Linked DNA regions of Homo sapiens: region 2 is linked to region 1. Evidence: fine-mapped expression QTL. A gene starts in region 1. The other region holds a variant in brackets. All regions are shown on one strand. Distances are from middle to middle. Region 1 holds the start of THBS3 (thrombospondin 3). Region 2 has its middle 12 kb from the start of GBA1.

Region 1 (5,000 bases):
GAAATAACATTTATTGAATACCTTATGTGCCATTCCCTATACTTAGTATCTTAGTCTCGAAAAAAAAGGGGGAGTCACTACCATTTCTATTTTACAAATGGACAACACAGGGCTCAGAGAGATTCCGGACATGTCTGTGATTACAGGACAGCCAGGAAAATCCTTTCCTCTATCTCCTCTCTTGCCATCTACCTGGTGAACATCTATCCTCAGAAGCTTTTCCTAACCAGTATCCCTCTTCTTGGAAGCACTGATAATGCCCTTCTCTTTGGCAGTATCTGTGGTCTGTTCCTACTTTAACTTATATGTGAATATTTTATTATATTTATTTGCTTACCTATCTGCCTTTCTGTAAACTCGAAGGGAGGAACCAAATTTTATTCATCTTTGCCTGGCAATGTTTAATATTTGGAAGAAATCTAATAGATCCTCTTTAAAGCAAGGAGTCAATGAATAAATGAAGCAAAGGAAGTCTGATTGCTAAGCTCTTTATACAAAGCCTGGCTGTGAGTCGTTTGGTCTAACAAACAATAGCCTCAGTAAATGCTGTTAAGTGAGGAGGAAGAGGAGAAGGGGGCTGAGGAGAAGGCAGGAATTCCAAGCTAGAGTAGGTCCCTGAGACAGTCCAGCCTAGTAAACCTCCGAATGGAGAAAAAAAATGCCCAAAGAGAAAGGATCTCCGCAAGGTCACACAGCCAGTGAATGGATGAGCAAGGACTAGAACCCATCACCTGAACTCCCAACCAGGCGTCTTTTCATTGCTGCATTAAGCCTAGAAAACTACAGCATAGGGCACTGAGGCCATATCGGCCACGTACGCTCTTTGACTGCCTCAGTTTCCCCCACTGCGCCCGTGCTGAGTAGCCCTGGCAAGGTTTGGATGCTTGGCTAGTTCGGCCCCCTCCCCAGTCATCAGGGCACAGCAGAGGGCGCCGGCGCCACCCCTCACCAGCACGGCCAGGCTGTCCAGGTCCACTGACGGCAGCCCCCAGCCCCCTGACCAGCAGAACAGCTCCATGGGCGCCGCCATCTTGCCCACCCTCTGTCCCGGAAACACTTCCTTGTGTGCTTCTGCCCTCCCCTGCCTGGGCCCGCCCCCCGCCACCGCCCCTCCGATCGTTGCGGTCAGGGGGCCTGGGGAGATCCCCGGGGAGGCGAGGCTTCTTCTGGCCCGACTGGCAGCTGAACTGCGGGGGACTGGGCCGCGGGCCTCGGGGGAGGGCGGCCGCCGGCCCATCCAGAGGTGGCCCACGTAGCGGGACAGCGCTGTCGGCCCGGCGCGCCTCGGAGAGTCACGGCGCCTCGTCCAAGTGGAGCCCCGAACCCCTGAAGGCGCGGCAGGCTCTGGAGAGCGGGGTCTTGTGCGCCTGGGCCAGGTCTGGGGGCTCTTGCCAAACTGCACGTGGCCTGTACTGCTCCAGGGCCCCTTGGGGCTCGTCCCCGAGCGGGGACTGCGGGGGGGTCCCCCGAGCAGCATGTTTTCCACAGCGCGTTATGTTTGGAGCGGGCCCTGCGCCGCCTGTCGCCATGGAAACAAAACAGGGGCGGTGGCGGCGGCCGGAGCGGAGGCCGGGCTGGGGCTTGGGTGGGGGAGGGGAAGAGAGGCTCGCAGGCTGTCGCTTAGGTGACGGGAACTCAGGCGCCCCTCTGCTTCATCCGGGTCACGGCCCGTCCGCTAGTACCCACAGTGTTCCACAGTCTGGTCCTTGGCTCCTCGCCTGTACCCCTGGTCTTCTGCGCCTGTCCCTGGTGTCCCTTTCCTCTTTTTTGGTTTCTTCACTCTGACCTCACTGACCACTGCTTTAGATTCTCCCTTCAGTTCCCGTCAGACGCTTCCAGACTCCCAAGCTTTCCTACGAATGAGGGAAAATGGAGAAACAGGCACTTGTCAGGGGACCCCCCACCCTAATAAAGAGCACTTGCTCCGCCAGAACAGCAAAATTCATGCCATGTGGGCATCCCTGGGCACTATAGCAAGCTAGTTGCGGCCACTCCCTTGGCATCCTTTCCTGCCAGCTGTGGAATAATGCCCACTGTCTAGCACTGCCCCTGCCAGGGGTTCTTGCCTTCCACAATCGTGGCTTCCAGAAAACAGTGGCATTCGGTAGCGCTGTGTGCCGAGACCCCCAACAATGATGACTGCGGAGAGGGAGGCACCTGGGGGAGGATCATTAGGGAGAGGTAGAAAGCAGGGAGGCCTCCAGGATTCTTTCCCAGTGCCCCTGGTTCCCAGAGCTGATGATGCCTCCAGGGTGATTGGCAGCTCTTTGTTTCAGCCCCCCCTCACCCGCCTGCTGGCCCCCCCTCCAATTCTGTCCCTCCGCCCCCCGGCTCCTGCTCTCTCCGCCTAGCCTTTTCCCCTCCCAGCTGCCTGCCTGCCAGGGGTAGTGAGCCGGCTGAGAGGCATGGAGACGCAGGAACTTCGGGGGGCCCTGGCTCTTCTCCTCCTTTGCTTTTTCACATCTGCCAGTCAGGATCTGCAGGGTAAGCCTGTCTCCATCCTCTTAGACCGCTCTCTGCTTCTTCCCCATTTGCCCTCAGCCCAAGTAGCAGAGAACATGTGGGCAAGGGGAGAGGGGAAGAGTCCAGAAATTGAGCCAGAGGAAAACTTAAGACTGCCTAGAGTTGGTGAAATTATGGCCTGGTGGAGAGGAGTGGGCACCGGAGAGTAGTGGGGGAGCTGGAACAGGACAGGGTCAGGCATGAGGCCAGGGCAGAGGACTCAGGAACTGGATGCTCAGGCTGCCTGGCTGGGGTGGTTCCTGAGCATCTGTAGGCACCCTAGGGTCTGGGAGAGCAGCCTGAAGGTGGGCGTACTGTAGGTCCCTGGGCTTCGTCCCCCTGGGCTCCTGGCTGCCCAAGGACAGGGCGGGGGTGGGGACCAAGAAGCCTGGGCTCTCCCGGAGGTCTGGTGGTGGGATGGGCCGATGGATGTGGGAGAGGTAGCTGGAGCAGATGACACAGGCATAGATTCTTTACTGGCTGGAGGGAAAACCACAGATTGGCCAGGACACAGGAGGCAGAGGAGCTGGGTCCTACATTCCCGTGGGAGATAGCCCAGATGGTGGGAGGGTTAGAGTCCTCAGTGGGCAGCTGTTCTTATCCAGAGCGAGTGTGCTGCGCCCCTAGGATGGGAGGAGGGGAACTAGGGTGTGGAACGAGCCAAACCCAGGAGTGGAAAGAGAAGCTGCCTTCCATTTCTACGTTGTGGACACCAGGTGCCACTCCTGTGGGGGATCAGCACAGCATCTCCTTTGCGCCACCTGGTGGGGGCATCTCAAATTTGTGGGGTGCTGTTTCTGTGTTTCCAAGTGAGTCTCAAACCTGCAGGTTCCTGGAAGGTAGTAATAGGCAATAATGGGGAAAGGAAGGCACAGTGCCTCTGTCCTCTGAGAGCAACAAGGGTTGAGGTTTTTTTTTGTTTTCGTTTTGTCTTTTTGAGATGGAGTTTCACTCTTGTTGCCCAGGCTGGAGTGCAATGGCGCGATCTCGGCTCACTGCAACCTCCACCTCTCAGGTTCAAGCGAGTCTCCTGCCTCAGCCTCCTGAGTAGCTGGGATTACAGGTGCCCGCCACCACGCCCGGCTAGGTGGTTTTTTTTTCTTTTTTGTTGTTGTTTTTGTATTTTTAGTAGACACGGGGTTTCACCGTGTTGGCCAGGCTGGTCTCGAACTCCTGACCTTAGGCGATCCACCTGCCTCAACCTCCCAAGGTGTTGGGATTACAGGTGCGAGCCACCATGCCCAGCCAAGGGTTGAATTTTGAGGTGACTAACGCTGCCTGGTGGTGGGGGTAGGGGGTGATGTGGGCTCGGGGGAGGGCATACCTTAGCATTTGATCCCATTCTCTAACCTTGATAACCCCTGCCTGACCAGTAATTGACCTGCTGACTGTGGGCGAGTCTCGGCAGATGGTAGCTGTGGCAGAGAAGATCCGGACAGCCTTGCTCACTGCTGGGGACATCTACCTCTTATCCACCTTCCGCCTGCCCCCCAAGCAGGGTGGTGTCCTCTTTGGCCTCTATTCTCGCCAAGACAACACTCGATGGCTGGAGGCCTCTGTTGTAGGCAAGATCAACAAAGGTGACTGGTGGGCATCTCCTTTCTTGCAATGGTGACCTCCTTAAGCACTCTCCCTCATCCCTACTTCCCAAGTGCTTCCTCATTCTCCTTGGCCTCCACTAGGGACCAAGGTCCCATCAGGCTGTGCCCAGACATCAGGGGCACCTGGTATGGGGTGCTTATAAGGTGCTTTAGGAGCCCATGTACCAAACAATAGGGTGAGGCTTGAGTCCTGATATTTATAGGGATGGGAGGTTGTACTTGGGGATGCCTGGAAGGAGGGTGAGGCATGTCTCTGTGCCTCAGCGGTGATACAGAAAGGTCTTTCAGATCCCTGGAACAGGTCAGTGGCCACAAAACCAGCTGTCACCCTAGGAGAGGATACAGTCATCTGATACCAATGAAGACTAAGAAAGTATTTGTCTCTAAACCAATTATTTTTTTAAATGGAGTCTTGCTTTGTCACCTAGGCTGGAGTGCAGTGGTACAATCTCAGCTCACTGCAACCTCTGCCTCCTGGGTTCAAGCAATTCTCCTATCTCAGCCTCCTGAGTAGCTGGGACTACAGGTGCCCACCACCATGCCTGGCTAACTTTTGTATTTTTAGTAGAAACAGGGTTTCGCCATGTTGACCAGGCTGTTCTCGAACTTCTGACCTCAAGTGATCTGCCCACCTTGGCCTTCTAAAGTGCTGGGATTACAGGTGTGAGCCACCGTGCCTGGCCTCTAAAGCAATTTCAAAAACATTTATTGTGTACCTATTAAATACAAGGTGTTGAGAGCCACATAGTAGAATTAGGGATAGGGGCCCTAGAGATGTGGTATCTAGCAGAGTTGATCCAAGGCTCAGCTGGGAGGCAGGGGGTGGGGGATAGCGCCCATACTGATCTCCCCTCCTGGGCAGTACTGGTGCGATACCAGCGGGAGGATGGCAAAGTC
Region 2 (5,000 bases), 22 kb before region 1:
CCTCAGCATCCCCCACCACATCCTGAGTAAGCTTTGTCCCCAGATAACCTCTTCAGCATGATCCTTAAATCTCCCTAAGCCTCAGTTTCTCCCCTGTGGAATGGGGGTAAGAATCTCTTTCTCTGAATGCCCCTGTGTTAGGAAATAATTTAGAATACTTCGGAAACAAAAAGCTCTGTTCACACCTAAGCAATCAGGGCAGTGGCCCTGGCCTTGCCAGGAACTTAGGCTTTTATCTGGATCCTCTTTCCAGGCCTCTCAATTAATTCCCCAGGTCCTTAACCTTTGGGAAATTAGAAATTAGGAAGAGTGTCCCACTTCTGACACTGTGTTCCCTCTTGGAACCTGACCGTCAATGCTAGAAGAACCCTTGGAAAACATGCTGGCCCAGCCCTCTAGTTTTACAAATAAGGGAGTGCACAGCCCTGAGAGGTTACATGGCCTGCCCAAGATCACGCAGTCAATGGCAGAGTAAAGAGCATAGCCTAGGCCTCCCCACTCCTCTAGTAATGCTCTTTCATCTTCTCCAACCTGGCTCTAAGCCTTGTCCATCCTGAGCCCCATATCTAGCCCAACCTAGTCCCTGAAAACAAGAAGTGGCCCTTAGAAATCTCTCTCCAGTCCCACTATCAGAGGCCAACTGCTGTCTTCCAGTCTCCTTCAGCCTGTGCTCCTCTCCCTCCCTGACTGACAGGCAGAAGGTACCGTGCCTCTGGATATCCCCACAGTGCCCTGAGCTGCATCTCTTGCCGACTGCTTTAATACATCACAGTGACATTGTGTGTGTCTCTGCCACCAGACTATTGCTCCTTGATGCTCTGGGTCACCTGCATCTAGCATGGCATATATCTAGTGCTCAATAAATGTGTATTGTACGGAATTGACTGAACTTCTCTCACTGGCAGCCCCCTCTATCCAAATCACCCACCTCTTTTTGAAGGTGGGTGATGATCTTGTGTGGTACTGAGGTGACCTCTCCATGACTGGTCCAAAGGGCAGGCAGGGTTCCTGATACTGAGAGAAAAGTATACCAACCAGGACCTTAGCTGCCTATCCATACGTAGTTGCAACACATTCCTGCCTATCTCCTGCTTCTCCTCTTGTACACACCCTTCCTCACCCCCAAGGGATACTGGGTACCTGAAGGGCTCTGCCAGGGGTTGCTGATCTTGTGCTATATGGTGCACAAGAAACTTTTAAGAAAAAAGAAACTTTCAAGACACACTTTCCAACCACGAATTCTATCTCTGCTCCTTTTCATAGCAATAGGTTTTCTTTTTCTTCCCTCCACACTTAAACATCCATTCTCTTATCACCCACCCCCATCAGACTCCTTCCCCTGTGTTTCTTCAGCCACTGCTCTGACCAAAATTTGAGTGACCAAAAGTGGTGTCAGACCCAGTGACCATTTCTCTGCCTGCATTTCACTTGACCTTGAAGCAGCAATTAATCTCCATAATCAGCATCTTCTTGAATTTTTCCCTTTGAGGACATTGCTCTTCTACTTTGTGCTCTGGTTATCCTTTACAAACTTTTACACCTCTCCTGAACTGGTTAACAGTAGAGGGCCCCAAGGGTCTCACGTAAGCCTTCTTTGTTTTTGTTTTTTTTCTTTTCTTTTATTTTTTATATATTTTTTTGAGACGGAGTCTTGCTCTGTTGCCCGGGCTGGAGTGCAGTTGCACGATCTCGGCTCACTGCAAGCTCTGCCTCCCAGGTTCATGCTATTCTCCTGCCTCAGCCTCCCGAGTAGCTGGGACTACAGGTGCCTGCCACCATGCCTGGCTAATTTTCTGTATTTTTAACAGAGACAGGGTATCACCATGTTAGCCAGGATGGTCTCGATCTCCTGACCTCGTGATCTGCCCACCTCAGCCTCCCAAAATGCTGGGATTACAGGCGTGAGCCACTGCTCCCAGCCGTCATTTTTATTTTATTTTATTTATTTTTTTGAGATGGAGTCTTGCTCTTTTGCCAGGCTGGAGTGCATGGTGCGATCTCGGCTCATTGCAACCCCCGCCTCCCAGGTTCAAGCGATTCTCCTGCCTCAGCCTCCTGAGTGGCTGGGACTACAGGTGCCTGTCACCATGCCTGGCTAATTTTCTGTATTTTTAGTTGAGACAGGTTTTCACCTTGTTAGCCAGGATGGTCTCGATCTGCTGACCTCGTGATCTGCCTGCGTCGGCCTCCCAAAGTGCTGGGATTACAGGCATGAGCCACTGCACCCGGCCATCAATTTTTTTTTTTTTTAAATGGAGTCTTGCTCTGTCACCCAGGTTGGAGTGTAACAGTGCAATCTTGGCTCATTGCAACCTCCGCCTCTTGGGTTCAAGCGATTCTCCTGCCTCAGCCTCCTGAGTAGCTGGGACTACAGGTGCATGCCACCACACCCGGCTAGTTTTTGTATTTTTAGTAGAGACGGGGTTTCACCATGTTGTCCAGGATGGTCTCAAACTCCTGACCTCAAATGATGTGCCTGCCTTGACCTTCCAAAGTGCTGGGATTAGAGGCGTGAACCACATTGCCCACCGTAAGCCCTCTTTTCTACTTCCACTCTTTCTGTAGGTGGCCCTACTACTAACGTCCATGGCTTTAAGTACCATCTTTCTATGTGTTAATGCATAA[G/C]TCCAGCCTTGACCTCTCTTGAGCGCCATCCAACTCAGCATATCTGGTTGGATGTCTAATGAGTATTTCAAATTCAACATGGCCACAACTGAACTAACTGAACTCTTTTTTTTTTTTAGGCAGAGTTTTGCTCTTGTTGCCCAGGCTGGAGTGCAATGGCGAGATCTTGGCTCACTGCAACCTCTGCCTCCAGGGTTCAAGCGATTCTCCTGCCTCAGCCTCCCGAGTAGATGGGATTATAGGCCCCGCTACCCGGCTAATGTTTTTGTATTTTTAGTAGAGACAGGGTGTTGCCATATTGACCAGGCTGGTCTGCAAATCCTGACCTCAGGTGATCCCCCTGCCTCGGCCTCCCAAAGTGCTGGAATTACAGGCGTGAGTCACTGCGCCCGGCCACACAACTGAGCTCTTCATTCCCACCCCAGCACCGGTTATTTTTCCACTGTTCCCATCTCAATGGCACCTCCATTACCCATTTGCACATTCCAAAAGCCCAGGAACCATGGTGACTTCTTTTCCCATATCCAACACAACCAATCCTATCTTGAATTCATCCACGTCCCACCACCTCCCCAGCTACCTAGTTCCAGCCACCCTCTCTCCACAACCTCTGAATCAATCTTTCACTTTTCCCAGCAATCCATTCTCCACTCAGCAAAATGATGATAAAGCACGTCACATCAAGGCTCTGCCTCAATTTAATGGCTTCCCATTGTATTTAGAATCATCTCCAAGCTCTCAGAGACTATGGTCAGCTACAATCTGGCCCACCTTCTGTTCCAGCCAAATTTCCTCACAGCACAAGGACGTTTGCACCTGCTATTTTCCAAGCACGAAACCCTCGGGCAGATATATCTGGTGCTGTCACCTAATTTCAGGTTTTAACTCCACTCTCACCATTTCAGTGAGGACCTAATCCCCATCGCAGTCATTCTATCACATAGCTTTATTTTATTTTATTTTATTTTTTTTTGAGATACAGTCTGGCTCTCTCACCCAGGCTGGAGTGCAGTGGTGTGATCTGGGCTCACTGCAAACTTCCATCTCCTGCGTTCAAGCGATTCTCCTGCCTCAGCTTCCCGAGTAGCTGGGATTACAGGTGTCTGCCATCACGCCTGACTAAGTTTTGTATTTTCAGTAGAGACGGGGTTTTGCCATGTTAGCCAGGCTGGTCTCGAACTCCTTGACCTCAAGTGATCCACCTGCCTCAGCCTCCCACAATGTTGGATTTACAGGCGTGAGCCACTGCTCCCGGCCACATAGCCATGTTTTAAGCATGTATCACTATCTAAAATTATTTTTTGTTTATACGTTTGTGTCGTCCTGTAGAATGTAAGGTCACAAGATCAGGGACTTGCTCATTGCACTGGGTCTAACACACAGTGCTTCCTCAACAAACACTCGTTAAGATACTAACGTGGCAGAGTGGGGCCTTGTAAACAGTTTCAGGACCCTGTGCTTGTAAGAGCAACGTGGTGCCCTCCCAAGGAAGACAGGGAGGATGCAGGAGCACTGCCCAGAGATGGCGTCAGGCTGCAAGACATCTTGAATAATTCACCATCGTAACAACCCAGCCTCAGGAAGAGATGGGGCAAGGCCAGAACGAAACATTAGGTAAGAGGCGGTGGACAATGGGATTCCCACAGGGCAGCTTTTGGGCACTGGACGTTCCCTAACCTGAGGCTCTCTGAAGAGGAAGGTTAGGAATCCTCTCAGCTTCGGTGGGCTGGACTCACTGTGGGAATTCAATCGCCCCCCCCCACCCACTAAGGGTGTGCTGGCGGGAAAGCGCTGAGACGCATGCGTAGTTCTCGCGTCTGGCACCCGCTCCCTTTCCAATACGCTTGCGCCCCGTCTGTGCTACGGATGGTCAGGGAGAGTTGTCCGTCTTCAAATGGACCAATGAGACTTGTGGAGGGGCTCTGAGTCCCGCCTCTGGATGAGTGACCGTCTCTTTTCCAAGTGAGGCCCCGCCCCGCCTCCCCAGGGCTGCTTTTCTCGCGGCACGGGTGGTGGGGCTGCTTCTTGACTTCCGCGCCTAGTGCGCAGGGCCCCATTCTCCAGTCCCGCCCACGCGCCTTTGGAGGCTGCGGTGGGATTTCCTTTTGCCTTCGGTTGGGGCTGCTGTTTCTCTTCGCCGACGGTAGGCATTATAAATATTTCGCCCTTTGAATTTTAGCTCTCCCCTCCCGGCGTTCGCACTTAGCCTTTTTCATCATTATCATTATTTTTAATGGTAAGGATGGTCAAATTTTACTAATGAAGCGATTATAAAATCTTCAAGTCTTTGTATCCACTTGCTTTTTGAGGGCTGGAGTGGGAAGAAAGGTATATAATTCATTCATTCTTCGGACATGTGACAAACGTTCACGGAG

Evidence for each region. PIP is the estimated chance that this variant, and not a neighbour inherited with it, causes the effect.
Region 2: its variant is the best candidate, but not a certain one, in a credible set for the expression of THBS3 in whole blood (INTERVAL, PIP 0.90).

The regions. Positions count from the first base shown.
Region 1 is chr1:155,205,282-155,210,281 of GRCh38, reverse strand. It overlaps THBS3 (thrombospondin 3), which reads left to right and starts at 2,385. Exons shown (of 23, transcript NM_007112.5): 1 at 2,385-2,484; 2 at 3,876-4,082; 3 at 4,966-5,000. The coding sequence starts at 2,406. MTX1 (metaxin 1) reads right to left here and starts at 1,587. Exons shown (of 8, transcript NM_002455.5): 1 at 950-1,587. The coding sequence starts at 1,477. THBS3-AS1 (THBS3 antisense RNA 1) reads right to left here. Exons shown (of 6, transcript NR_183238.1): 6 at 4,793-5,000. RefSeq lists a silencer at 1,038-1,237 and an enhancer at 2,601-3,384.
Region 2 is chr1:155,227,150-155,232,149 of GRCh38, reverse strand. It overlaps the pseudogene GBA1LP and the pseudogene MTX1LP. Among named protein-coding and RNA genes, the nearest start is that of GBA1, 12 kb to the left of the region's middle. RefSeq lists a silencer at 4,682-4,731 and an enhancer at 4,637-5,000. The variant G/C (reference allele first, on the strand shown) is at 2,626.